3 linked regions of the Homo sapiens genome follow. The protein of the gene in region 1 interacts with the protein of each later gene in a pairwise test. Each region holds a gene or a part of one and is shown on either strand. Other genes may lie near its edges.

What was found.
Region 2: the proteins of USP40 (region 1) and TCF25 interact in a two-hybrid assay, tested with the Homo sapiens proteins (one study listed by BioGRID).
Region 3: the proteins of USP40 (region 1) and ACSF2 interact in a two-hybrid assay, tested with the Homo sapiens proteins (one study listed by BioGRID).

Annotation. Positions count from the first base shown.
Region 1 is NC_000002.12:233,519,666-233,530,499, forward strand, and holds part of USP40 (ubiquitin carboxyl-terminal hydrolase 40), read right to left. Parts: intron 9,848-10,834; coding exon 9,766-9,847; intron 7,914-9,765; coding exon 7,742-7,913; intron 5,898-7,741; coding exon 5,813-5,897; intron 4,898-5,812; coding exon 4,827-4,897; intron 3,825-4,826; coding exon 3,505-3,824; intron 1,450-3,504; coding exon 1,326-1,449; intron 7-1,325; coding exon 1-6. UniProt on the Homo sapiens protein: May be catalytically inactive.
Region 2 is NC_000016.10:89,895,202-89,906,035, forward strand, and holds part of TCF25 (ribosome quality control complex subunit TCF25), read left to right. Parts: intron 1-788; coding exon 789-882; intron 883-3,355; coding exon 3,356-3,448; intron 3,449-3,565; coding exon 3,566-3,671; intron 3,672-5,433; coding exon 5,434-5,593; intron 5,594-8,916; coding exon 8,917-9,004; intron 9,005-9,736; coding exon 9,737-9,895; intron 9,896-10,834. UniProt on the Homo sapiens protein: Component of the ribosome quality control complex (RQC), a ribosome-associated complex that mediates ubiquitination and extraction of incompletely synthesized nascent chains for proteasomal degradation.
Region 3 is NC_000017.11:50,429,218-50,436,217, reverse strand, and holds part of ACSF2 (medium-chain acyl-CoA ligase ACSF2, mitochondrial isoform 2 precursor), read right to left. Parts: intron 1-7,000. UniProt on the Homo sapiens protein: Acyl-CoA synthases catalyze the initial reaction in fatty acid metabolism, by forming a thioester with CoA. Has some preference toward medium-chain substrates. Plays a role in adipocyte differentiation.

The sequences.
Region 1 (10,834 bases):
CACCATCTAAAACAGAGAAATAAAATAATGACTAAGTTGTAAAAAATGGGAGGAGATGAAAATGAGGATTGTCACTGTGTGCATAAACAAATTATTTGAGATATTAATTACCTGACATTTAGTAGTTTTTGCCCACTGGAAATTTTTCCATCCCTGAAATCCTTTTATAAGATCAAAAGCAAAAACTTAGGACTTCATAGTTAAGTTTTTACCAAATTGATGTTAATTGGAACAGAAAGGACACCTACAGAAAACTACAGAAACTGTAGAAAACTACAGAAACTAAAGAAACTAGCTGAAAGGCAATAAGCTGACAAACCAGTAACTTTTCTCATGAAAGCAAACAAAATAAACTGCAGGCAATCACATTTCTCTATGTCAGGAATGATGAATGTGGGGCCAGTAAGCATAAATAAAAATGTATACTATCAGCCCGAGTGCACTATTTAAAATTTCTGTTTAAATGACTTTATTTTAGATTCTTTCCCTTTTTCAGTTTAACCTAATTTCCTCTAGGATACAAAATCTTGTAAATTTAGGAGTAAAACCGATGTCAGACAATCTGTCCTCCCACAGCACCCCACATTGTGAAAAGAAGAAACAGAGTGAGTCATAAAGGACTTCACCAAAGTCTCTCACTTAGGGTCAAGGTACTAGATCTTCTGAACTTTAGTGTATTCATCATACAGTGTAAATATTAACACACTTTAAGAAATTATAATATTTATATAAAAGAAAACAACATTCTAGTAAGTTTCAACTTGTTATAGAAAAAAAACCCATAATGAATTGAGACTACATAAATATAAAAAGGTATTTCCTGAGATGGTGTTTAACGAAACTAGTCTTCAAATGGAGAACTGAAAGAGTTCCTTTTAAGAACACCTGGCTTTACAGAAAAACAGAGTATAATGTAAAACAATTTAAGATAAATTTAAAAAACAGAAGTCCACAACACAAAACCAAAACATATGTATACTTGGCTTAAAAAAAATACAGAAAAGACCCTTGAAAACAGCATTTTCAAGGAAGCCAAAGAATTTCATTTTGTGGGAGCCAGAGAATTCCATGAACTAACTAAATGAGTAACTCCCACATTCTAATTCTAGGCTTTGGAGGAAATTTTAAAAGGCACGTATTTTCTTGAAATATGCTAAGGGCTAACATAGGTAAACAAGCAATAATCAAATGTTAAATAAAAAGCTGACTTCCTAAGAGCTGAAGTCTATTGAGACAACTGTTCTGAAAGATTAAGGTATTGTTTTCTAAATAAAATTCTGTTAACTGAAAATCTATCAGCCAACCTTTAATTATATTCTACTCACTGTGTTAACAGTTGCTGATATTTTAACTTGCTTCTCTTCAGATTCTAACTGGCATAAATTTTTAACGTGGAGCCAGTCAATCTCATTCATACTAGTGACCCATTTCTCTTCCTTGGTCAACAAGCTGTAGGTAAAAAGAAAAGATCAGAAATTAATACCTTTCCTTAGGCATCACTTCCAAAACTCTGCATGTGTCACTTAATGTGACTAATTAGAGGTGACCAAGTTCTACTGAGTCGTCTCTATGATAAGTGGGCTACCTTTGCAGGGTAATGTTAGGCAGTAGTCTATAGAGTCTATATTCATGACTCCAAATATTCTTTGATTTACCTACATAATTTGTTGCCACATTTTTCACAGAGAACTTCTGTAAGTAAACAGTTGCTGGCTTCTGCCTGCACCCTGCAAATCACTAGGGGAGCTTTAAAAGAGCACCTATGCCAGGAGCCTACCCCACTGGATCTAGATTTCATTTAACAACAGGGCAGCCATGTGCAGTCTGTAGACTGACACTGCACAAAAGGGCCACATCTAAGGAGTGTCACACATGGCATATATATTGTATACTGCATTTCTACATAGAGTTTTGTTTTATAATTGCAGCCGGCAGTAGAGTATCTTGTTCTAACATTTTCCCACAGATAGTAGTAAAGGGTCCTGAAGAGGTGCCTTCTTTCTAATTCACACAGAAGCATTAATGGGCTTGCCGAAGTCCTCTTTGGGAATGTACATTAGAGCTCTGAAACATCATTCTACTCTTTATTGCAGTTATTCCATTCTGAGCTCCTACCTTAAGCTAGCAATCCCAAATAAAACAAAGTATGAAGCACAAGATGCTCCATGAAGACTACTTTAAAATAGTGAAAAACTGTATGATAATTATGACAATGACCGTAATATATTAACTAAAACATTTAGCACTTACTGTGTGTACTTTGTAAGCACTCAACTCTTTCAATCCTCTCAAGTCTATGAAGTTGGCACTAGTTATTATCCCTATTTGACAGACAAGAAGACTGAGCAGAGAAAGACGAAATACCTTGCCCAAGGTCCCACTACAGCCTACTGACTTGCCTAGGAGCACAGTTAGGCAAACTATAATGTCACATAGATTACTATGTAGCCATTCAAGGCAGTTTATAAAGAGTCTACAAATCTCAAGGTTGGGCAGGGGTAATGGAAAGCAGGATACAACTACTTATCTACAAAATAATCATTATTAGGTTTAAAAAGAAAGGCACCCAAATGCTAACAGTGATTAACACTGCATGCTGAGAAGACGGATACTGTTTTGGGTCCCTTCTGTCTTCACTTTTGTATTTCCCCAGTCCCAATAAATGCATACTGCCTTTTATAAAGGAAATACAGTTCTTATAAACAAGGTAGGGAATGTCTGCAAAACCCCTGTCCAAAAGAGTAATAGTGGTAAGTGTACTACGAAAGAAACGGTCCACAAGTGCTCTGCTTCTCTGCATCAAAGCCACTATAAATAATGATACAGACATCCTGCAATCTAAGTAAATCTGTAGCACTGAGAAAACAGGGAGCTTGAAGTCTTCAATATATGGAAATATTGCAGTTACAGTGTATGACACATTGACTACAGCAATGTACTGTCACAGACATAGATGACAAAGAGATGCAGCTTTAAATGTGACCACAGGATTCATGGGGGTAATTCGCCACGTAACTGCTCTATTTGGGCAACTGGGTTCTCAAGAGTCACAGAACGGATTATAAGGAAACAATGAGTTGTCTTATGGGTCTCCTGAAACAAAATATCCAGAAACAATTTAGCCATAATGTTAATACCTTCTTCAGGAAAATTTTCAGTTTTCTCTGTGAGAATTTCCTTCGGTTTTATAACTGGCACTAATCAGAATTCACTTGATAACTTTTGCATTACAGCCAACTAATTGATACTCTATACAGTCTAGAAAATCAGGGATACTTATATTATTTTCTCACCACATTTACCAAAAAGTCCCTTTACAAAAAATCATGTTTTTCTCTAAGTTACATAACCTAAAACATTCCTGTATGCAATATTTAGAACATAATGTCTAGAAATAAAGAAACATTCAACTCTTGTCACTAAAATAAAGCTTTAGAGTTCTGCTGGGTGGTACTGTAATTAAAATGACTTTTAGAAATCCTTTTTCTCTTGTTAGCGAGTTACCTGTTATCATCATGAGAATCCTGAATTAAAATTGAGCTTCCATTTCTGAGCCCTTGCTCCCTGAACGTCTTCCTCATGTCTTCCTTGGGGATGGCCGTCCAACCCTCCCCACCTGGACATCCAGCACTGTTGATGAAGATGACACCTGCTGGGATTGCTAAGGCTGTGAGGACAGTGCCCACTTCTGCATTAGCTGGAAAGACATGTGGAGATTCTATCACCTGACAACACTTTTCTCCATCACTGCTTGTGTCTAGATGAAGAACATTTAAAAGTAGAGGTTCGCAGTCAATACCAGTTTGAATGTGGACTCCACCAACCTGCAATCATACCAAGACAACCATTAGTACAGCTGATATTTGCCAACACCGTCAACATAACATGGTAAAAGATTACTCTTAGAGAACAACCCTCATTTTTTCCAAGTAAAATAAAATTTTCACAAATGTCTGTTAAGCATCAGAGGAACAACTTCAGATTTTTCTTTTGAAACTTTCTTATCTTTTATTTTTTTAGGAGAAATCTATGATAGACTGGAGATAGACATTTATGAGTTATCATGGGTGGTGATGAAGCCAGATTGGCCAAGGTCAGTTCACAGAGTGGCTGAAGTGCTCCTGGCCGCCTTCTAGAGATAGAAAATTCACTCTCTACCTCCAAACCACCCCCACTCCCCAACTCAGTATAGATTCTCACTCTTCTAAATTCCCACAGGCACTATGCACAGACCCCCTACTCCAGCACGTATGGTGCAGTTCTTCACACGACGAGGGCCTAAAAGGACACAGATCAACTGACTGGCCTTTGATCTAGCATCTGACGCACAACCTGGTATAACGGAGGCGCTCAAGAAATGTCTCCTTGGCGTACAACTAGCACTGATTGTCCCTAACATTTATCAAGCATTTCAGTAGTTTTCTAATATCTAATTGCCCTCACATAGGCTGAATAAAATTTCATTACAATGACTTTTTTTTTGAGATGGAGTCTTGCCCTGTCACCCAGGCTGGAGTGCAGTGGTGTAATCTCAGCTCACAGCAACCTCCACTTTCCGGGTTCAAGCGATTCGCCTGCCTCAGCCTCCCAAGTCACTGGGATTACAGGCATACGCTACCATGCCTAGCTAATTTTTGTATTTTTAATAGAGATGGGGCTTCACTATGATGGCCAGGCTGGTCTTGAATTCCTGACCTCAGGTGATCTGCCTGCCTCGCCCTCCCAAAGTGCTGGGATTACAGGCATGAGCCACCATGCCCGGCCATTACGATGACTTTTAAAACATCCAAAATTATCACGAATATTTCTTCAGTAATTTTTTTTACCTCCACCCCATTCCACACAAAGATGTCTTCCCCATCAGCAATTTCAGTTTCACACAGTGTCAGTTCATCCCCTAGAAAGAGATCACCAGTGAGACCATTCATCATGACCATCAGAAACAACTGAGCTAAAGAAAGAGCTGAGACAAATATTTGTTTGAAAAAGTATTTTCACTAAGGAAAATTTAAAAAGTAGTAATTATTTTTATTCTATTGACATTATTTCATTGTAATTTTTCTTTAAAACGTTGTGACAAAAGCTTGTGAGCATGGTGGCAGGACAAGAGAGATAATCCAAAGGTCAAGTGTACTTGAGGCACATGACATTGGAAACAGGAGTTAGGCTTAAGCATGGAATGGTCCCAACTCCACCGATATGTCCATAACACAAGCTGTATTGTGTGCTTCAAGTCTCTCAGCTTCAGTTTTCTCATTTATGAAATGGAGATAAAAGAATTTTATGAAAATCAAGTGAGATAATTAACATAAAACACCTATTACAGATTTTGGCCCAAATTAGATGTTACTGCCGCTACTGTTAATTCTCATTGTTTTCCTGCTATTTAAAGGAAGTAAATGCTTTCAAACTCTCAAAGTATTTCTTGTTTTACTACAAAATCTGAAGCTGAGAACTGGGCAGAAAATCAAGTCACATAAATATGATTCAGATGGTTTGAAACTATGTTGTTCAACAATATGTGTCAATATAAAAAATTCTAAAGCTTTTCAAGAAATTTTAGTAGAGGTAGCCTTAATTTCAGAAAAAATAAAATGTTTCCATGTTAGAAGAATTTCACACATTATATAAACTGGATACATTAAAACGTGGATATTTTATTTCTTTTGGAAAACTTACAGTGTGAAGATAATCTACTTAGTTAAGAAAGTAGTAGGTGGGGAAGGACTGACAAAGAGTAGAAAATCGCAGGTGAGCCGGACAAAAATGTAGATATATAGAGTGAGTTGCTATGTTTTCATATTTATCTTACCGCCAAGTGACTGGTAAATGTGAAGTCCTGCTGGTACAAGCTTTGCAACACTAAGAACCATGTCTCCTTCCCAAAATTCTAACAGCTGAAGAATATTAATGAAGGAAAAGAGAATGTTGAAAAGTGACATATACATATCACCTTTCCAGGTTACTGTGCCAACTCACATATGAAGATGACACAGAGAGCAAGCAAATGAATACTCTCACCCCCACCCAACACCGAAAACTTGAAAAGAAGGCATCACTTGTTAAATTAGTCAAAGCCAAAGACGGCTAATCTCCTCCATTCCTGAGTGAAGAATTCTGGCCTACACAAAGGGCACAACAACCATCTAAACAATTCTGCTTAATATATATGAAGAGCACTTTTCTCAGAAAGCAAGTTGATGAGCATGTCAGCCTAGGAATTTTTACTCAAAAGAGCAAGACTAATTTGCAGAATTAGCAATGTTGAGGGAAATGTAGCCCTGACTCTAGCACACACTCATCTTCTAGCTGCTTGAAAGGAATGTCTCCCATTGCAAATTTATAAAGGTGCATTACCAGTTTACTTAATAGATTACCATGGCTTTGCTCTTTAAGTTTCTAGATCTGAGAGTCTGAGCACTGTGGCAAGGTCACCAAAATAATATCACCATAAAAGTCATTCCTATCTAGTCATTCTCTACAATACCATAAGGTATTTTCTTAAAAAGAAACTTCTTATTTACAAGTGATTAGTTTGCTGTGAATTAAGTTTTCTAGCCTCTTGTCAGTGGCTTCCTTCTAAGAGAATAGTTAGTAGGCATATACACTTAAAACACCAAAACACACAGACTGGAGTGTACCTCACACTTACAAAGTGAATAAGATCCTTTCCATTTAAAATATCCCCCTAGACTAGGTTCAGATTCCCACATCTGCCTGTATCAACAGTGCCAGAATTGGCTCAGAAATAAATTTCTAATGAAAAAGTTCAGAAATATTAGACAACTTTAGAAATCCTGACACTGATCTAGTATTTAAAAAACTTCAAATCAACTAAGGTTAAAAGGGAAATTGCTTTGCTTTTCTTAGCAGAAGAAAATTGAAAGAAAGCTAATAGTTTTGGTAATAGGATTTTTCAGAAAATTCATTTAACTAATTTCTGGGAAAAAACACAAAAAAGCTAACATTTTCTATCTCCCTTTTCCTTGATCAGAAAGTAGTGTGGAGCAGGAGGGTGATTAGGAGAAAAAAACCCTAGATGAAGAGTAGGGAGAAGAGGGACAGAGTCCCAGCTCCATCAACTAGATTTAGGACCACAGGCAAGACATTGAGTCTCTTTAAATCACACTGCCTCAACTTCAAAATGGGGCTAATGTGTCTTCATGAGATTAAAGAACCAAATCACATGATTTATATGAAAGCAGTGTAAGTAAAATAAAGAACACTGCTGTTGCTATCATCATTAAAACATACCTAGAAAAATGACTTGGAGACTACAGCACTGTTTTTACTCTAGACTAGCAGATACTTTCCTTCACTTAAGAATATTATTAATAAATACTGTTCTATACTACAGGGTATAAAGTTAGTTGCGTTTATTTGTTCAGCAGTTCTCAGTTTTACACAACATGCTCATCTTTATCTTTTCACTCTCTTTGAAAGGCAATTTGCTTTCATTTATTTTCTAAAAAAGAGACAACTTTATACTCTTTCTTCCCCTCAAATAAAATGTACCAGGCCTGATTGTCTACCTGAAAAGCTGCTGGTAGGAGCTGTGGAGAAAAGCCTCTCTAAAAGACTTAGGAGAGAAGATTTGGGTCAACCCTCTATGAAGTGGCAGATGTCAGATCTTCCTAAGCAGCTTTGAAAAATAAAGTTGTATCCTAAACAGAATGAAATGGAGAGTCTAGCTGGAGATGGTGCTCGATGTCTGAATTAAGAGGAAGTAAGGCGATATTACCTGAAATATTGACTGCCGGAGATCTCCTAAAGTTTTTCTTTTATCAAAGGTCAAATCCCACACGCTTTCTGTTTGAGAGACTACTGGGTGCAGAGCCCCATTGAAGAAATGATACTGAGGGCCCAGGTGAAGATGCAATTCAAAAGTATTGTTTGCAGAATCACATTCTGCCCTTTAAAGAGGCACAAAAATACATAAATACTGTGTTTTTATAACAGACACTGTGTTTTATCTCAAACCAAAGATATCTGGCTTACAATAAAGTTCTCCATCCCACCAAAGTAACAATTTTTCTTCTATGTGCCACAATTAGTCACTTTAATTTTTCAGTCAATAGCAAAAATTCAGTTCTGTCACCATGAATTCCAAGAGAAAACTGTTTTAACATAGGCTGCAATGTTAACTCCATTTCTCTGAACAAAGGCTGACACTTGAAATCTTCTAATTCTGAGATTATATTATAGTTATGAACAAAATGCTAGAGACCTGCTTACATCATTATGTTAAGTAGCAGATTTACTTCCATGTCATCTATCATCCTTATTTCCACTAGATTTTGCACATTCTCCCATGATTTTTTTTTTTTTTTTGAGACAGAGTCTCACTCTGTCGCCAAGGCTGGAGTGCAGTGCTGCGATCTTGGCTCACTACAACCTCTACCTCCTAGGTTCAAGCGATTCTTCTGCCTCAGCCTCCTGAGTAGCTGGGATTACATGTGTGTGCCACCATGCCTGGCTAATTTTTGTATTTTTGGTAGAGATGGGGTTTCACCATGTTGACCAGGCTGGTCTTGAACTCCTGATCTCAGGTGATCCATTTGCCTCAGCCTCCTAAATTGCTGGGATTACAGACGTGAGCCACTGCGACCGGCCCCATGAAATATTTGAAGCCAGTAGCATGAACCTCCCGAGACCACATTATCCAGGCTAAAAGTCCTTGGCAGCAGCCTGGTGTTGGCTGCTCTTCTCTGAATCCACTTGGCTGACTCGAAGCCAGTGCGAAACACAGGTAGGGTCTGACCAATGTGGAGCTGGAATGAGGCTTATCACGCAACTCACGTACTTCAGGACACTTCAATGAACATGGTCAGAGAGCACAACCACACGAAAGACCTTAGTGCGGGTTGATGACAGCCCCTCAGGCTCTGCCTTTTATTTTTTTATTTTTATTTTTTTAAAATAACAACTGCTAGTCCAGACCACTTATGCAGGTTATTTTTTAGACTTAAGATATTTCGCTCTGTTAAGTTTTAATCTTTTTGGTATCTTGGTTTTTGTTGTTTCTTTGCTCGTGTCATTCACTGTACTTTTTTCCCCCAGCTCCAAGCCAATGATAAAAATGTCAAATACACCCTGTCACATAATCAGGCAGTTTGGTCCACAAGGAGATCACGGTAACATCCATTTTCCTAACCCAATACCCTATTGACCCTAACAGAGCACAAATAAAGAAGCAGTTCAGAGTCAAAGGTGAGGCCCCAAAAGAGAATGCTGAGATCATAAAGTTCTCACAAACCATCTCTTTAAGTAAGAATCCATCATAGGCTTTCCCCCAAGATCAGCATTGCATTCAATAGGTTATAGCATCCATATTTCCCTCCTTTTGAAAATCTGCCCACCACTGATCCTCTCTCACTACATGCCAGTTCGCTACAACTACTTACCTATGAGGGGTGATTTTCATGGCAGGCTCTCTTTGGACCCAAGGAAATAATCTGGCCAGGCCAGGATACAATTCATTCAGCCCAACTATGTGCTCACTGATTTCTCTACTCTTGTTAGGCTTCGATCCCTACTTAGCAATGGCTGTTTTATATGTCACCATTTAATTCACTCTCACACATAAGGGATAATTTCAGAGTTAAAGTTACCCTCACTATAAAAATTCAGCAGCCAAACAGACACTTGCATTAACAAGTTGACTATTTTTTTTCTTTTTAATTTTCATTACTGAATGCTTAAGGCCTAAATCAGATCTTTATTCTCCGGAATACTAGTCAAACTCTAAAAGCAATTTAAAATTACCTTTTGGTTTGCAGTTCAATGTTAGCTGCATCCATTTCATTCAGTAAATGACATGGAACCCCATATCTTGGATTAGCTCGAGCTGTGAACAAAATTTTTCATTAACTTGTGTTGGCTAAATGAAATCTGGTTGCTGGAAGAGGTAGCATGAAGACTAGGAAGGACTGTCCTAGGAGCTAGGAAAGCTGCTACTAATTAGCTGTGTGAATACGAATTTTCTCAGGATCTCAGTTTTCCCATCTGAAAAATGAAAAAGTTAGAACAAATGAAAAGTAAACATTTCTTTAAGACAAGCTAGAAGAATTCCATTTTTTCAACTCTTTTAAGTATACTTTTTAAAAAGAACACCCAGATTTTCATCTTTTTTTTTTCTTTTTCTTTTTCTTTTTTTTTTTGAGACGGAGTCTCACTTTGTCGCCCAGGCTGGAGTGCAGTGGCGCAATCTTAGCTCACTCTGCCTCCCAGGTTCAAGCAATTCTCGTGCCTCAGCCTCTGAGTAGCTGGGATTACAGGCTCCTGCCACCACGCCTGGCTAATTTTTGTATTTTTAGCAGAGACAGGGTTTCGCCATGTTGCCCAGGCTGGTTTTGAACTCCTGGCCTCAAGTGATCTGCCCGCCTCAGCCTCCCAAAGTGCTGAGATTAAAGGCATAAGCCACCACGCCTGGCCTCAGATTTTCATCTTGATTACAAATACAATAAATGACTACTGTAAAAATTCTGGAATTTTTTTAAGTGTAAAAGAAATAGATACTGCTCATAATTTCACTCCCAAGACACACACACACACACACACACACAGGCACACACACAAACACACACAATTTTAAAAACTGGGATAATATTCAACAAATCTATTTTCATTTCATACACTGTATTTTCCAAAGTCTTAAATAAATGATTACATAGTAGTCCATTCTATAAGGAGCATAATTAACCTAACCAATCTTTTTCTGTTAGACATTAAGGTGATTTCCAATTAATCACTATTTTAAAATAGTAGGAACAATAAACATCTTTGAGCATCAACATTCATATACAGCTCTGATTACTTTAAGACAAACTTGTGA
Region 2 (10,834 bases), on another chromosome or scaffold:
GCGATGGTGTAAGATGACAGGGGTTGCCAGGATATCCATGACAGCTTTATTGAGATACAACCTACGTAGCACAAAACTTACCCATTTAAAGTTTTTGTTTGTTGGTGTTTAATATATGCCACAGCCTCCCGAGTAGCTGGGACTACAGGCGCCCGCCACCAGACCTGGCTAATTTTTTGTATTTTTAGTAGAGATGGGGTTTCACCGTGTTGGCCAGGATGGTCTCGATCTCCTGACCTTGTGATCCACCCACCTCAGCCTCCCAAAGTGCTGGGATTACAGGCATGAGCCACCACGCCCCGCCCTCTGGCTTTTATTTACAATGAAGTTTTCAAGGTTCATCCTCACTGTAGCGTCGATCAGAACGTCGTTCGTTTTTATGGCTTAGTAATACTCCACTGTGTGGACGGACCACATGTTGTGTATCCATCATTAGTTGACGGCCGTGTGGGCTGTTGTAAATAATAGTGCTTACGTCAGCATGCACACGCAGTCTTAGGTGGACACATCTGTGCTGCACACATGGACGCCTGGTTCTGTCAGGACGTGGCAGCAGTTGTGCCTCATGGTGTTGAAAGTGTTACCATGTCAAGCTCACAAGTTCTGTGGTTGAAATAAATGCAGCGTGGCATCCAGGGTGCCCAGGGGCATGTCTGCCCTCTCAGTGTCCAGGACTCTAGTTTCGTGACCTTCCGTCCAGACCTTTCCTTGTTGTCCATTATCAGAGGAGGGGCCGTGGTTGCTGTGTGTGGCCATGACACCCTCCCCTGGCGTCCCTGTGCCCACAGAGAGAGCGCTGTACAGCATGGAATGTGCGTTCCACCCCCTGTTCAGTCTCACCAGTGGGGCCTGCCGGCTGGATTACCGCAGACCCGAGAACAGGTGAGTGCAGCTGCCCTGGAGGTGACGCAGCTCCCCTTCCCTTCTCCTGCGAGTGAGGCTGGGGGAGGTGCAGTGGGCACCTCATGGCTGCCCTCCAGGGTGGACCAGGGCCCACAGGTCCAGAGTGACCCACCTTCCTCTCTCTGGGCTTAAGGATAGAGGGATGGGATTGTCTCAGCCCAGGTTTACCTTTGTCTGTGGACATGCCTGATGCTACTGTGGAGGTCAGAGTGGGAGGTCTGCTGAGCCCAGGAGTTCAAGTCCAGCCTGGGCACCATAGTGAGACCCCCATCTCTTAAAAAAATAAAAATAAAAATAAATGTTTGTGTTAGAAGTGAGCCTGGCTGGGCACAGTGGTTCACGCCTGTAATCCCAGCACTTTGGGAGGCCGAGGTGGGAGGGTTGCTTGAGCCCAGGTGTCAAGACCAGTCTGAGCACCGTGGCAACATGCAGTCTCAAAACAGCATTTTTTTTTTTTTTTTTTTTTTGAGACGGAGTCTCACTCTGTCACCCAGGCCGGAGTGCAGGGGCGCGATCTCGGCTCACTGCAAGCTCCACCTCCCGGGTTCAAGCCATTCTCCTGCCTCAGGCTCCCGAGTAGCTGGGCCTACAGGCACGTGCCACAACGCCTGGCTAATTTTTTGTATTTTCTAGTAGAGACGAGGTTTCACTGTGTTGGCCAGGATGGTCTCCATCTCCTGACCTTGCGATCCACCCGCCTCGGCCTTCCAAAATGCTGGGATTACAGGCGTGAGCCACCGCGCCCGGCCACTACAGAACATTTTAAAAACTAGCTGCGCCTGGTGGCGCGTGCCTGTGGTCCCAGCTACTTGGGAGGTTGAGGCGAGAGTATCACTCAAGTGAGCCCAGGAGGTCGAGGCTGCAGTGAGCTGAGATGGTACCAGTGCACTCCAGCCTGGGCAGCAGAGTGAGACCTTGTCTCTCAAAAAAAAAAAAAGAAGAAGAAGAAGAAGTGAGCCTGAGAAACCAGATCTCCACAGTGGGCTCTGCAATTGCATTTCCTTCTATGTTTGGCTGAGAAAACCCATCCCTGGCAAGTTTAGAAGCTTTGGAAGGCTTTGCAGGTTTGACCTTAAATCAGTGAGGAGCTCAGAGTCAGCCTGACCCTCGCTCCCCTGTGCTGAGCGACCGCATGTGGAGGTCTCTCTTCTTTCAGATACTTCTGCCCCTAAAGCCATCCCTCTGGCATCAGGCCTCGCTGGTCAGACCTAGACTGGCTTCCGCCAGGCCTTCCCGCAGCCTGTCCTGTGGGCCCTTTGTGGAGCAGACCAGCTTCTGTCCGCTGTCCTGCCTCTCCTGTGTGCAGTGCCCTGTTTCTCTGGCCGCCCTGGGTTGTCTGCAGTGTGGGATCCGCTCCTACCCTCTCAGCCCTCCTGGCAAGCCAAGGTCCGCTGACCCGTTCTGCACAGATTGTCTGCACTGTGTGCTGGGTCTGAATTTCCTCCACTGGTTTTCTTTATGTTAGTTTTGTCTCTTCCAATGAAATTCTTAGTTCTTTGAAGTAGATTATAAAATATTAATATTTCCCGACGCGAAAGAGACAGTGGGCTGTTGATGGAAGTAGCAGCCCACCAGCATCCGAAAGTCACAGGGCTCCATGTATCCAGCCTGAGTGCTGTTAGCCACTGTTGAGATTGGAGGATAAATTAAGATCGTAATTGTAACAAGAGATTTTAACTCTCTTCCTGTAAATGATAAATAATAAACAAAAAAACAAGATAAAGATTTCAGCGGGGCGTGGTGGCTCACGCTTGTAATCTCAGCACTTTGGGAGACCGAGGCAGGTGGATCACAAGATCAGGAGATCGAGACCACGGTGAAACCCCGTCTCTACTAAAAATACAAAAAATCAGCTGGGTGTGGTGGCGGGTGCCTGTAGTCTCAGCTACTTGGAGAGGCTGAGGCAGGAGAATGGCATGAACCCAGGAGGCGGAGCTTGCAATGAGCCGAGCCGAGATAGCGCCACTGCACTCCAGCCTGGGTGACAGAGCGAGACTCCGTCTCAAAAAAAAAAAAAAGATTTCAAAGAAGTTTGATTTTCAGTATGCAAATTCGTGTATAACTCTGTAAAGGACAAGGAGAGCGCACACCTCCTCTCCAGACATGGATCTCTGTGTGCTGGGCACGTAGAAAATGCCAGCAGAACCCAGAGAGCAGAATGGGGGTGGAGCGGGTGCTGACCGGGGCGCTAAGCAGTGTGTGGGGTGGAGCGGGTGCTGACTGGGGCGCTGAGCAGTGTGTGGGGTGGAGCGGGTGTTGACTGGGGCGCTGAGCAGTGTGTGGGGTGGAGCGGGTGTTGACTGGGGCGCTGAGCAGTGTGTGGGGTGGAATGGGTGGTACTGGCCAGGACGCTGAGCAGAGGGCGGGGTGGAGTGGGTGCTGGCCGGGGCGCTGAGCAGAGAGCATTCTCCTTTGTGTCGTTGTAATTCATGTGGAACTATTTTGGATCTAGGAGCTTCTACCTGGCCCTCTACAAGCAGATGAGCTTCCTGGAGAAGCGAGGCTGCCCGCGCACGGCGCTGGAGTACTGCAAGCTCATCCTGAGGTGAGTGTCTGCTCAGGGCCAAGCCCGTCCACGCTCCCTGTCCTGGCTGCAGGCCCACTCTCAGCCTGACGATGCCCCTGTTCCCCTTTGCTCTGCTCTCTGTGCTGCCTCCGGAAGTCTCGAGCCGGATGAGGACCCCCTCTGCATGCTGCTGCTCATCGACCACCTGGCCTTGCGGGCCCGGAACTACGAGTACCTGATCCGCCTCTTCCAGGAGTGGGAGGTGGGTGCGAGCCTGGTGAGGCCCCGTGGAGGGACGGACACCTGCTTCTCCTTCTGTTTTCTTGGTTCAGTATCTGTGCGCTCAGGGGACGTTTGGGGATGAAACGATAATCGTCTGAGGGCAGAACCACGTCCTCCTGCCTTGTTTGTCTCCCTTGCCGCCTCTACGGAGTGGAATGTGGTTTTCCTAGGGACAGTACAGCAGCCTTATGTCAGAATCCTCATACGTGTGTACACATGCTCAAACGTGTGTACACATGCACACGTGTGCCTGCAAGGACTGTGATGCTGGTAATGATGAAAAACCGACAACTCCCGAGCTCCTCATGGGCAGTTCAGGAAGATGCAGCCGGGAGGTAGAAGGAGGGTTGGTTGCGTGGGGCTGACACAGGGACCCCCAGCACGTCTGTCCTGTTCCATGGGAAGAGTGTGAGTACAGCAGGAGAGACTTGAGCTCTGTCCCCAGTAACTCTAACACAGACACGTGTTGGAATGATAATTTCGGTGTATTGGGTTAGATATAACGTATTAATCTCACCTGTTTTGTCTTTAATGCAGCTCCCAGAAAATTTAAATTGGGCCGGGCATGGTGGCTCACGCCTGTAATCCCAGCACTTTGGGAGGCCGAGGCGGGCGGATCACCTGAGGTCAGGAGTTTGATACCAGCCTCAACATGGAGAAACCCTGTCTCTACTAAAAATACAAAATTAGCTGGGCGTGGTGGTGCATGCCTGTAATCCCAGCTACTCGGGAGGCTGAGGCAGGAGAATCGCTTGAACCTGGGAGGTGGAGGTTGCGGTGAGCCGAGATCGCGCCATTGCACTCCAGTCTGGGCAACCAGAGTGAAACTCCGTCTCAAAAAAAAAAAAAGAAAATTTAAATTGACACCTGGGCTCCCATTATGTTCCTATGGGGCAGCACTTATCTGGAAGGACACGGGCTTTGTAACGCTAACCTCCAGCAGGGCCTGGGGCTGGGGAGAAGGCGACAGCTCTTGACTTTCTCTGCTTCTGTGTTGAATTTTTTTCATAGCACATGTTCATGGATAATGAAAGTGGGTAAATTATTTTGAATTTTTAAGCATTTGGCATAGTTGGCCAGGAAGTCTCACCCCCAGGAATGTGGTTTATAGAAATTCCTGGAGCTCACAAAAATGTAGGTGCAGGGAAACCTCAGGGAGTCCCCCAAAATGGGGCTGCAGAAGAATGTTGATGATGGTGTTTAAGGTCACAAAACTGTGAGTCTGTGATCCCATTTTGATAGAAAAAAATGCAGTGAGTCACATGTCTACAATATGTGACATAGGCTGAGAAAGGCAAGAGAAACTGGCACGGTGGTAGACTGCTCGGAAACTCGCGTGGCGGGCTGCTCTCGGAAACTCGCGCGGCAGTGGGCTGCTCTCACAGACTCGCGCGGGGGTGGGCTGCTCTCGTCTGTAAATTTTCCACATTGAGAGCACCAACTGCTCAGCTTCAGAGAGGAGCCTGGGCGGCAGGTGGGACCCTCACTCCCCACGGTGTCCTCGCTCCGGCTCAGTCTACTTCTCAGGCCCTCCCACGTCCTCTGTATCTTCTGCATGCGGAAAGCCCCCCAGGTGGACGTTTTAAGTTATCTTTATGCTGAGTTAGGAAGAGGCCCTTGCGTTGCCTGCAGAATATACCTGCTCGGGGTAGGGCTCACTGGTGATGTCAGAGCGTCTGCAAACTCACATATTTTGTCTTTATGACTTAAGGCTCCACGCTCTGTTTCTTCGTCCCTCGTAGGCTCATCGGAACCTGTCCCAGCTCCCTAATTTTGCCTTCTCTGTTCCACTGGCGTATTTCCTGCTGAGCCAGCAGACAGACCTCCCTGAGTGTGAGCAGAGCTCTGCCAGGCAGAAGGCCTCTCTCCTGATACAGCAGGCGCTCACCATGTTCCCTGGAGGTGAGTGAGCGCTGTGTCTCGCCTGGGGTAGGGGTGTGTCCTGTCAGCCGTGGGGGCTGCTCTTCCTGGTGGTGGAGGCCAGGTCCCAGTCCTTCCCCACACTTGTAGAAACATGCATTCTCTGGTAGGGCCTGCAAACCTGCCCTACCAAACCTGAAAGAGGGTCGGCTCATCTCGGAACCCGCTGCGTGCCAAGCCAGGCACGAGGAGGTGGCAGGCATCCCGACCCCCGTGGGGCCTGTGTTCTAGAGTGCAGAGACAGAACTGGCTGGGAGGTGCGGGGCATTGGATTGTACCAGTGCTGGGGAGGAGAGCAAAGCAGGGGAAGGTCTCGGCAGCGCCGAGGTGTGGCCGAGAGGGTTGTGCTCTGCACCATGCTGGGATGCAGAATGGAGGCCTGTGCCGCCCAGATGGACTCAGCCTGCACAGCCGTGACCCCTGACTGCATCTGGGTAGCTTCGATCCACGCACATGTGGCGGGCACAGTGAGGCTGCCACCTGGTCAGACCTCGGGGCTGACCCTGCCTGACAGCATGTGTGAAATCCCTCTTTAAGATGGGCCTCCTCCGAGGAGCTGTGAGGGGTGAGGGTGAAATCCCTCCTTAAGACGAGCCTCCTCTGAGGGGCTGTGAGGGGTGAGGGTGAAATCCCTCCTTAAGACGGGCCTCCGGCCGGGCGCGGTGGCTCACGCCTGTAATCCTAGCACTTTGGGAGGCCGAGGTGGGCGGATCACGAGGTCAGGAGATCGAGACCATCCTGACTAACACGGTGAAACCACGTCTCTACTAAAAATACAAAAAATTAGCCGGGCGTGTTGGCGGGCACCTGTAGTCCCAGCTACTTGGGAGGCTGAGGCAGGAGAATGGCATGAACCCAGGAGGCAGAGCTTGCAGTGAGCCGAGATCGCGCCACTGCACTCCAGCCTGGGCAACATAGTGAGACTCCGTCTCAAAAAAAAAGAAAAAAAAAAAAAAGACGGGCCTCCTCCGAGGGGCTGTGAGGGGTGAGGGTGAAATCCCTCCTTAAGACGGGCCTCCTCCGAGGGGCTGTGAGGGGTGAGGGTGAAATCCCTCCTTAAGATGGGCCTCCTCCGAGGGGCTGTGAGGGGTGAGGGTGAAATCCCTCCTTAAGACGGGCCTCCGGCCGGGCGCGGTGGCTCACGCCTGTAATCCTAGCACTTTGGGAGGCCGAGGTGGGCGGATCACGAGGTCAGGAGATCGAGACCATCCTGACTAACACGGTGAAACCACGTCTCTACTAAAAATACAAAAAATTAGCCGGGCGTGTTGGCGGGCACCTGTAGTCCCAGCTACTTGGGAGGCTGAGGCAGGAGAATGGCATGAACCCAGGAGGCAGAGCTTGCAGTGAGCCGAGATCGCGCCACTGCACTCCAGCCTGGGCAACATAGTGAGACTCCGTCTCAAAAAAAAAGAAAAAAAAAAAAAAGACGGGCCTCCTCCGAGGGGCTGTGAGGGGTGAGGGTGAAATCCCTCCTTAAGACGGGCCTCCTCCGAGGGGCTGTGAGGGGTGAGGGTGAAATCCCTCCTTAAGATGGGCCTCCTCCGAGGGGCTGTGAGGGGTGAGGGTGAAATCCCTCCTTAAGACGGGCCTCCGGCCGGGCGCGGTGGCTCACGCCTGTAATCCTAGCACTTTGGGAGGCCGAGGTGGGCGGATCACGAGGTCAGGAGATCGAGACCATCCTGACTAACACGGTGAAACCACGTCTCTACTAAAAATACAAAAAATTAGCCGGGCGTGTTGGCCGGCACCTGTAGTCCCAGCTACTTGGGAGGCTGAGGCAGGAGAATGGCATGAACCCAGGAGGCAGAGCTTGCAGTGAGCCGAGATCGCGCCACTGCACTCCAGCCTGGGCAACATAGCGAGACTCCGTCTCAAAAAAAAAGAAAAAAAAAAAAAGACGGGCCTCCTCCGAGGGGCTGTGAGGGGTGAGGGTGAAATCCCTCCTTAAGACGGGCCTCCTCCGAGGGGCGGTGAGGGGTGAGGGTTATTTGCGTGCAGCTAGTATACACACATTACGTGACCACTCATCGCCTATTAGGATGTCCTGGAAGCAGCATCCCTTTCTCGGTTCTGTGGGTTTCCAGGGCTCTGTCTGGGCCCCGAGGAGGCCCACGGCGTGGGGTTGGGCAGCTTCTAGCACAGGCAGAAACGTGCCCCCCAGAGGGGCCTGGCCAGGCCTCAGTCTGCTCGCTGACCCCAAAAGTTTCGTCCCCTGTGTCTAAGAAGCACCTTTGTCCTCCTCTGGGGCTGCATGCAGCTGGCCATATGCTCCACCAGTGCAGCCGTGTCTGGAAACGCGGCTGGGAGGCCCTGTCCTTTGTGGCAGAGCTGTGCTGCTGTGTCACAGGCTGTAGCGTCAGCACCTCCCTTGAAGGCAGGTGGGCTGCCAAGAAGCCGCTGCCACTTACCCCAGAACACTGGAGATCACTGCAGGCTCTGCCCTCGGGGCCCGTTCCCCTACATGGCGGCCTCTGCCCTCAACCTGCAGTGCTGGCTCTTCCACTGGGCACAGGTGGCCTCCGCTCCCACCAGCCTGCCATGGGGTCCAGTCTTTGTGATTAAAACATCCAACCGGCCGGGCACGGTGGCTCACGCCTGTAATCCCAGCACTTTGGGAGGCCGAGGCAGGAGGATCGCTTGAGCATAGGAGTTCGAGACCAGCCTGGTCAACACGGTGAAACCCTTTCTCTACCAAAAATATAAAAATTAGCCGGGTGTGGTGGCGGACGCCTGTAATCCCAGCACTTTCGGAGGCTGAGGCAGGTGGATCACCTGAGGTCAAGAGTTCAAGACCAGCCTGGCCAGCATGGTGAAACCCTGTCTCTACTAAACATACAAAAATTAACCGGGGCGTGGTAGTGTGCGCCTGTGATCCCAGCTACTCGGGAGGCTGAGGCAGGAGAATCGCTTGAGCCTGGGAGGTGGAGGTTGCAGTGAGCCGAGATTTCGCCAACGCACTCCAGCCTGAGCAACAGAGTGAGACCCTGTCTCAGAAAAACAAAAAAAAACCCAACCCCATGTGTGTGGAGGGTGGTGGGTGAGTCTTCCCTTGGATGCAAATGGGGGCCCTGGCAGCCTCCTTGGGGCTGGTGTGAAGGAGACCCCCAGCCTCAGACCCTGGGCACGCCAGCAGCAGCAACTCAGAATACCACCCGGAAGCAAGCCGCTGGCCCTGCAGACTCTCCACCTTAGAACAGCTGTGTCTGTGACAAGGACCTCGCTGTGTCCCTTACTGCCTTGGGGGCTAGGAGTGGCTGGGGTGTGTGCTGAGGGCCCCCACAGAGCCTCCGCTTCCCCTGCAGTCCTCCTGCCCCTGCTCGAGTCTTGCAGTGTGCGGCCCGACGCCAGCGTTTCCAGTCACCGCTTCTTTGGACCCAATGCTGAAATAAGGTAAAGAGTGGCTGGTGGTGCCCATCTGTGGGTGCCTGTGGGTTCGGAGCCTGGGAGCCATTTTCACTCATCCTGAGAGGCCCTGAGGGACCTGCTTCCAGCAGCAGGAGGGGCTGTGGTGGCGGCCTCGGGGACTGTCATTTGACATGGGACGGCTCTGGAGCCCTCATCTGTGTGGAAAAGTCCAGGTGGGACAGCTGAGCAGCCTCCAGCTTAAAAACGAGGCTCATATAAAGAGGGTGCCAGGCGTGGCGGCACATGCCTGTAATCTCAGCTTTTTGGGAGGCCGGCTTGTGCCTGGGAGGTCAAAGGTACAGTGAGCTGTGTTTGTGCTGCTGCACTCCAGCCTGGGTGATGGTGAGACCCCGTCTCAAAAAACAAAATAAACAAAGAGGGAGCAAACACAGGAGAAAGTGCACGCCTTGGGGTCATCCCCTGGCCCTCCAGGGCTCGCCCTGTGTGCACGCAGATGGACCCGCCCTGGGTGCATTTTCACATTTCTGTGACGTCAGTCCTGCTTCCTAAAGAACATAACCTGCCCAACAGGCTCACGGCACATACCTGTGTGCCCCAGCCCCACGCCCTCAGGCCAGCAGCCCAGGGGCCTCCTTTCACTCCAGGCCACAGGGCACTCCCTGGACCCCCCGTCTGCCCATCCATGGGGCTCTGCCAGCCTCGAGGCAGGCTGTGGTCTGAAGAGGGGTTCTGCTCAGAGCCCTTGCTCTCCCCCAGCCAGCCCCCTGCCCTGAGCCAGCTGGTGAACCTGTACCTTGGGAGGTCACACTTTCTCTGGAAAGAGCCCGCCACCATGAGCTGGCTGGAGGAGAACGTCCACGAGGTTCTGCAAGCAGTGGACGCCGGGGACCCAGCCGTGGAAGCCTGTGAGAACCGGTGAGCTAGGGGTTGACACAAGCCCTGCCACGCCCCCTCCTCAGGGACCCTCATCCCAGACACGGGGGCCTCGCATTCGGGAGGCGAGAAGGGCTGTGAGCAGCTTGGCCTCCCTTGCTGTGGGGCCTGTGTGGAGCCTACAAGACAGCGCACAGCCCCTGGCGTGTCCCAGAGGCTTCCTGGGAGGCAGCTGTGGTGATCAGCGCAGGGTACCGAGCTGCTGTTCCCGGGTGCCTCGGGCTGGAGTGGTGCCTTCGGGTCTTGCAGTGTTTCCACATGAGCTGTGAGATGATGACGAGTCTCTCACAGCAGCATCTTGGGAGTAAAGAAATCTGGCAGAGACGAGAAAGAGTCTCCTGTCCTGTGTGTGAACACTTCGGAGGCTCATGCCCTAATATGCTGCAACTGACAGGCATCCCCTTGCTGTTCTTGTCTCGTTTGTCTGCGCCCTTGGCCCTGTGCTAGTTCTGTGCATCAGCACCGTGGCTCTGTGCAGTGGTGTGGCCAGGCTCAGGACCGCCTGGGAGTGGTGCCCATTTGCATCTCCACAGTGAAGTCTGTGTGCCGCGGACATGAGGTGTGCCCGGGGGTGCCCAAGAGGCGCTGGTGCCCCCAGCCGCTGGCAGTCATGGGCCCGTCCGCGTGTCTGCTGTCCCCACTGGACTGGACATTCTCATGGACAGGAGCATTTTGTTCCCTGTACTGCTCTCCAAGAGCGATTTCCAGCAGGGACCAGTGCCTGTGCCTGTAGCCGTAGCAGTGACGATGGTGACACACCCAGGTGTCCCTTCATGGAGATGAACTCAGTGACTTCCCACAAGAAGCCACTGGCTACGGCTCTCATCGTTCTTGTTCTTTGGATGAAGAGGCTGAGTCACTGGCCATGTGGCTGGGATTGGTCCCCAGAGGCTCCCCAGCCGCAGGCCAGGGACCAGCCAT
Region 3 (7,000 bases), on another chromosome or scaffold:
GCGGAGGTTGCAGTGAGCCGAGATCGCGCCACTGCACTCCAGCCTGGGCAACAGAGCGAGACTCCGTCTCGAAAAATAAAAAATAAAAAAAATAAAAAATAACAACAACAACAACAACAAAAATGAACTCTGACTAAGTCTCACATTCTATATAAGCAAAAATAAAATGAATCAGACTTAAGTGTAAAAAAAAATTATAAAATCTTCTGGATCTAGAGCTAGGCAAAAAGTTATTAGGCTTGACACCAAAAGCAAGATCCATTAAAAACAAACAAACAACAAAAAAAAACACTCACTGAGCGCTGGGTGCAGTGGCATGCACCTGTAATCCTAGCTACTTGGGAGGCTGAGGCAGGAGAATTGCTTGAACCGAGGAGTTGGAGACCAGCCTGGGCAACATAATGAGATCCCATCTAAAAAAAAAAACTCACTAAACTAGACTTTATAAACTAGACTTAATAAATTAGACTTTATAAAAAAATTTTTTTAAATTGCTATATGGGCTGGGCATAGTGGCTCACGTCTGTAAAGTAATCTTAGCACTTTGGGAGGCTGAGGTGGGAAAATCACTTGAGCACAGGAGTTGGAGACCAGCCTAGGCAACACAGTGCCATCCATCTCTATGAAAAAATTTTTTAAATTAGCTGGGCTTTGTGGCGTGTACCCATAGTCCTACGTACTTGGAAGGCTGAGGCAGGAGGATCACTTGAGCCCAGGAGGTTGAGGCTGCACTGAGCCGTGGTTGCACCACTGTGCTCCAGCCAGGGTGACAGAGTGAGGCCTTTCTCAAAAAATTAAAAAAAAAAAAGGATTAAAAAATTTTGCTCTGCAAAAGACCCTTTTAAGAGGATGAAAAAAAGCTACAAAGTGGGGAAAAACATTTGTAAGCCACATGTCTGACAAAGGAATAATACTAGAATACATACAGAACTCTGAAACATTGAGCTGTTTAATACGTAAAACTCACTTTTGTGAGTTTTTGTCAAGGTTAATGAGCTGCTCCTCCCAAAAGCACTCCTTGGCTTCTGAGCAAAAAAAGCCAGACACAGGCCAGGCACGGTGGCTCACGCCTGTAATCCCAGCACTTTGGGAGGCCGAGACGGGCAAATCACCTGAGGTCGGGAGTTTGAGACCAGCTTGACCAACATGGAGAAATCCCATCTCTACTAAAAATACAAAATAAGTCAGGCGTGGTGGCACATGCGGGTAATCCCAGCTACTTGGGAGGCTGAGGCAGGAGAATCGCATGAACCTGGGAGGCGGAGGTTGTGATGAGCCAAGATTGCGCCATTGCACTCCAGCCTGGGCAACAACAGTGAAACTCTGTCTCAAAATAAAAAAAAGAAAAAAAAAAGATCTGTGCAGTTTACTGTATGTAATTATATCATAAAGCCCCATGATCTTTCTACCACTCGACATAACCACCCTGAGGAGTATGTGACCTCTGAAAAATACCAACTACAAAGAACAAACTACAAACGACTACAAAGACTAGTAAGGACTACAGTAAAAAAAAAAAAAATTATTTTTTTGAGACGGAGTTTTGCTCTTTTGCCCAGGCTGGAATGAGGTGGTGCTATCTCGGATCACTGCAACCTCCACCCACTGGGTTCAAGAGATTCTCCTGCCTCAGCCTCCCGAGTAGCTGGGATTACAGGTGCATGCCACCATGCCCAGCTAATTTTGTATTTTTAGTAGAGATGGGTTTTCGTCATGTTGGCCAGGCTGGTCTTGAACTCCTGACCTCAGGTGATCCACCTGCCTCAGCCTCCCAAAGTGCTGGGATTGCAGGCATGAGCCACCGCACCCAGCCCAGTAAAGATTTTGAACAAGATACTCTATATTGGTGGAAGCTTCCATTCTCAGCATCTTGTTTTGTTATTATTATTATTATTATTTGAGACATGCTCTCACCCTGTCACTGAGGCTAGAGTGTGGTGGCATGATCACGGCTCACTGCAGCCTCGACTTCCTGGGCTCAAGCAATCCTCCTGCCTCAGTCCCCCAGGAAGCTGGAACCACAAGCACATGCCACCACACCCAACTAATTTGTAAAAAGTATTATCTGTAGAGATGGGGTCTCCCTATGTTGCCCAGGCTGGTCTCAAACTTCTGGGCTCAAGCGATCCTCCCACCTCAGCCTCCCAAAGTGCTGAGTTATAGGTGTGAGCCACTGTGCCTGGCCCATTTTCAGCATCTTGAATGGAACCACTGGTGTGTTTGTAAGTATGTACAGAAAATACATAAGAAGTGATAATTTGGGTTTAGAAAACTCTCTCAAGAAGACATAGAAGGGCCAGTGCGGTGGGTCACACCTGTAATCCCAGCACTTTGGGAGGCTGAGTTGGGAGGATCGCTTGAGCCCAGCAGTTTGAGACCACCTGGGGCAACAAAGTGGAAATCTGTCTCTACCAAAACAAAATACAAAAAATTTAGCAAGGCATGGTGGTACACACCTGTAATCCCAGCTATTTGGGAGGCAGAGGTGGGCACATCACCTGAGACTGGGAGGTCAAGGCTACAGTGAGCCGTGATCACGCCACTGCACTCCATCCCAGGTGACAGAGTAGCCTGAAATACTTGGAGTCAGGAGGCATCCATGCTGCAGGTTTTCTTTTGGAATAGCTGGACAGAGACCCCAGGAGAAGAGTGCCTAGGAATCAGGGATGGGGGCTGAGTCAAGACACTTGTCCCTTGATAGGATTACTAAAATACATACAAGGCTAGATATTAGTTTTCTAGGAAGAAAACCTTTGAGGTAGCCAGGTGCACATGGTGGTTTGTGCTTGTAATCCCAGCTACTCAGGAGGCTGAGGAAGTAGGATTGTTTGAGTCCAGTAATCCCAGCATTTTGGAAGGCCAAGGCAGGCGGATCACGAGGTCAGGAGTTTGAGACCAGCCTGGCCAACATAGTGAAACCCCATCTCCACTAAAAATACAAAAAATTAGCTGGGCGTGGTGGCAGGTGTCTGTAATCCCAGCTACTTGGGAGGCTGAGGCAGGAGAATTGCTGAACCCAGGAGGCGGAGGTTACAGTGAGCCCAGATCGCGCCACTGTACTCCAGCCTGGTGATAGTGCGAGACTCCGTCTCAAAAAAAAAAAAAAGAAAAAGAAAAACATATTTAAGTGTGTGTGTGCGTGTGTGTGTATAAAACAAAACTTGATGCTTCTTTTTGCTCAGGGGACTACAGAATTACAGAATGTCAGGTTAGGAAGCTGCATACTCAGGGTTCATAAGAGACCAAGTGAAATTTCACACACGTATGAAGGCTGCATACTTCAAATCACAGCCTTATTGGGTTTAGGGATCAGGCTCAAACTCCAGCCTCTTTAGGAATCACAGAATCTTCTCCCAAAGGTAGAGCACATCTTGTCCAAACAGCCTATTTTACAAACAAACTAAGGTCTGCGGAGGTTCAGTAACTTGCCTAAAGCCACACTAAGTTAGGACTGGTAGGACTGGGATTTGCTTTCCCGTCAACTAACTCCCAAATGGAGGAATACATGCATGCCACTGAGGTTTATAAAGCACGATTTGTAAGCTAGAAATACAACATGTTTAGTTCTAAAGGGAGAGGCACTGGCAGAATTGTTCCTACCCTTCGTTATTAGAACAGTCCCATGGCAAGGCCAACCCAGAAGATGAAATTACAGCCTGCATGTTGGCCTGTTGAATGCATGACCAGCTTTATTCCCATCTTCAGCATAAGCTCAGGCCTGTCCACCCATCTCCAGCAGCCCCACCTTTGCTTAGGTAGTTTACCCTGCTGGAACCTTCTCCCTCCTACTCCCCAGACACAGTTACTATACTGTGGGCCTTGGGGTCACTGTAAGAATGGGCCAAGCCATCATTACACAAGCATTCCTGTAAAATAGCTCACCACTAGGACAGGTTGCTCACTGACCCATGCAATGGGATGAACATGTCCTTGGCATCAAACTGTGTGTTAAGCATTTTCTTATGGGACCTCATTTAACCCTCACAATGCACTATTTATACATAAGAAAAGTCAAGGCCAGGCGTGTGGCTCACACCTGTAATCCCAGCACTTTGGGAGGTGGCTGAGGCAGGCAGGTAACTTAAGCTCAGGAGTTCAAGACCAGCCTGGGCAACATGGCAAAACACCATCTCTACAAAAAAATACAAAAATTAGTTGGGTGTAGTGACGCAGGCCTGTAGTCCCAGCTACTGGGGAGGCTGAGATAGGAGGATCACTCAAGAGTTCGAGGCTGTAGTGAGCTGTGATCGTGCCACTGCACTCAGCCTAGGTGACAGAGCGAGACCTTGTCTCCACCAAAAAAAGAAAGAAAGAAAAAAAAAGTCAAGTTTAACTTAAGTAAAAAAACTACTCAGCTAGAAAGTGGTTCATTTGAATCCAGATCTGCCTGGCTCCAAAGTTTCATCTGTAGATTGAAGTAAAATAGAGGCCGGGATCAGCAGCTCACCCCTATAATCCCAGCACTTGAGGCCAAGGCAGGAGGATGGCTTGAGGCAGGGGTTTGAGACCAACCTGGGCAATACTTCATAACCCCATCTCTACAAAAAATTTTAAAATGATCTGGGTATGGTGGCACTTGCCTGTAGTCCTAGCTACTTGGGAGGCTGAGATGGGAGGAATGCTTGAGCCCAGAAGTTTGAGATTATAGCAAGCTATGATGGCACCAGGGTTCACAACGATTGAAGCACAAGTGAGATTTCACGGAAGTACAAAGGCTTCAAACTGCAGACCTAACCTTTCAGGGATCAGGTTCTAACCCCAGGCTCTTTGGGAAGTCTCCCCCTCCCATTTCCACAAACCAGATTCCTCCTGCTTTGATTGACATCTTTAATGGCACTGCAAACTTTCTGCCTTGAATCAGTGTGTCTATGGACTTCCCCTGTAGACTCCTTCTAGAAAAACAGCTCTGTCAATGAAAACAAACTCATTCATCTTTTTATTACCTTTACATGCTTCACAGTACACTGCAGCAATGTACAGCATTCAAAGCAGAGGAGGGTAACTAAAACAGATGTGTACCATTCACTGATTCCAGCAGCCAAGTTCATAGTTATTTTCTACTGTTACATTTAGACTGGAGGATCCCCAGTGGAATGCATAGGGATATCGTTACCAAATCATTCATAAATCATGTTTTGGAAATTATGGGAAGAGTCTATTTCTTGTAACTATTTATGGTTACCACCCATAACACTTCCAGGCTTAATACAAGGCGCTTGTATAGAAACAGCATTTTGTAGTTTTCCATGTGTGTGTAAACTGTTGGTCACAAGAACAGAAAAATAGCTCAGCAGCTGTCTGAGCTATGTGATGTATGCAAAATGTGTCAAGCCCAGAGAGACATGAGACTTCAGTCATGCTCCTTCCTTCCCAGGGACAATTGTTTAAAGGCATTTTGCTCCTAACTAGCTGCTTTACCCATTACTTTCATGTTAACAAAATTTGTGATACAAAGAACAAAGTATAATGAATCAATAGCTTATATCATTTTAATGTACATTCTTGGTAAATCACTTAGGAACTGTCTCTTCTTTTCATTTATTTATTTATTTAGAGACAGAGTCTCGCTCTGTCGCCCAGGTTGGAGTGCAGTGGCACAATCTCGGCTCACTGCAACCTTCTCCTCCCGGGTTTAAGCGATTCTCCTGCCTCAGCCTCCCAAGTAGCTGAAACTACAGGCGCCCGCCACCATGCCCAGCTAATTTTGTATTTTTAGTAGAGACAGGGTTTCACCATATTGGCCAGGCTGGTCTCGAACTCCTGACCTTGTGATCTGCCTGCCTCGGCCTCCCAAAGTGCCGGGATTACAGGTGTGAGCCACTGCACCCAGCCTTCTTTTCTTTTAAAAACCCACTTGTAACTGCTGCTCATCAGATCATATAATCAGGGCAACTTGAGTCTATGCTCCCGGTTGCAGTCTGCAAACATGGCCCAAATAAATCTCTCTACTTATATTACTTTGGCCTCAGATTTTTCCCTTAGGTCCACAGTCTTATATGATCATAGCCATCCCCATGGAGGGTGGTCCACAAAGCCCCCTTACCCCTCTGTCCCCACCATCAGCACCAAGTCACTGGATCCCCAGCTCTGAGCACCACACCTAATTCTGAGAGGCTTTAGCCACTGATCTCTCTGCCTTCCCAGCTCTGAGTGTTCTCAACACCCTGGATGCAGCTGCCTCATAGGCAGCCCCAGGCCAGCTTTAGGGCAGGTCTGGGGGAAGCCTGCTCAGCCCAGGTTTCTCCTTGAATTCCTTCCTTGGAGGTTCACTGAAGCCCCAGACTAAGCCATCCACCTTCTTTGGGGAAGGAGGCACATAGATAGGGGGAAGGAGTTGGTCGTGAGGAGTTCTGGAGAGCAAAGGACAGCTTTTTCTTTCCTTCTGGGGAGAAAGACTCTGGGCCGGGCGTGGTGGCTCACGCCTGTAATCCCAGCACTTTAGGAGGCTGAGGCAGGTGGATTACTTGAGTTCAGGAGTTTGAGACTAGTCTGACCAACATGGTGAAACCCCATCTCCACTAAAAATACAAAATTAGCTGGGCGGGTGGCGCACACCGGTAATCCCAGCTACTTGGGAGGCTGAGGCAGGAGAACTGCTTGAACCCAGGAGGCGGAGGTTACAGTGACCTGAGATCATGCCATTGCACTCCAGCCTGGGGCAACAAGAGCGAAATTCCACCTCAAATAAAAAAAAAAGAAAAAGAGAAAGACTCTGAACAGCCCTGCGTCAAACGGAGAGGAGGACGTCCAGCAGACCCAAGGACTGGACATGTAGCTGGGTGGAAGTCACCATCTTGGCAATCAGCTAGGAGAAATAATTGGGTTCCAGAAAGAGGCCACCAATCAGGGGATCCTCTCCTACTTTCAAATCAGTCAGAATTCCCACCCAGACACCAGTCAAGGGTTTCCAGGGATCAGCCCTGCCTCAAAGGAAAGGCTGAGAACAAGAGCAAGCTTGTTTTATTCATCAGCCCAACAACACAGCAAGAAGGTAGTAAGT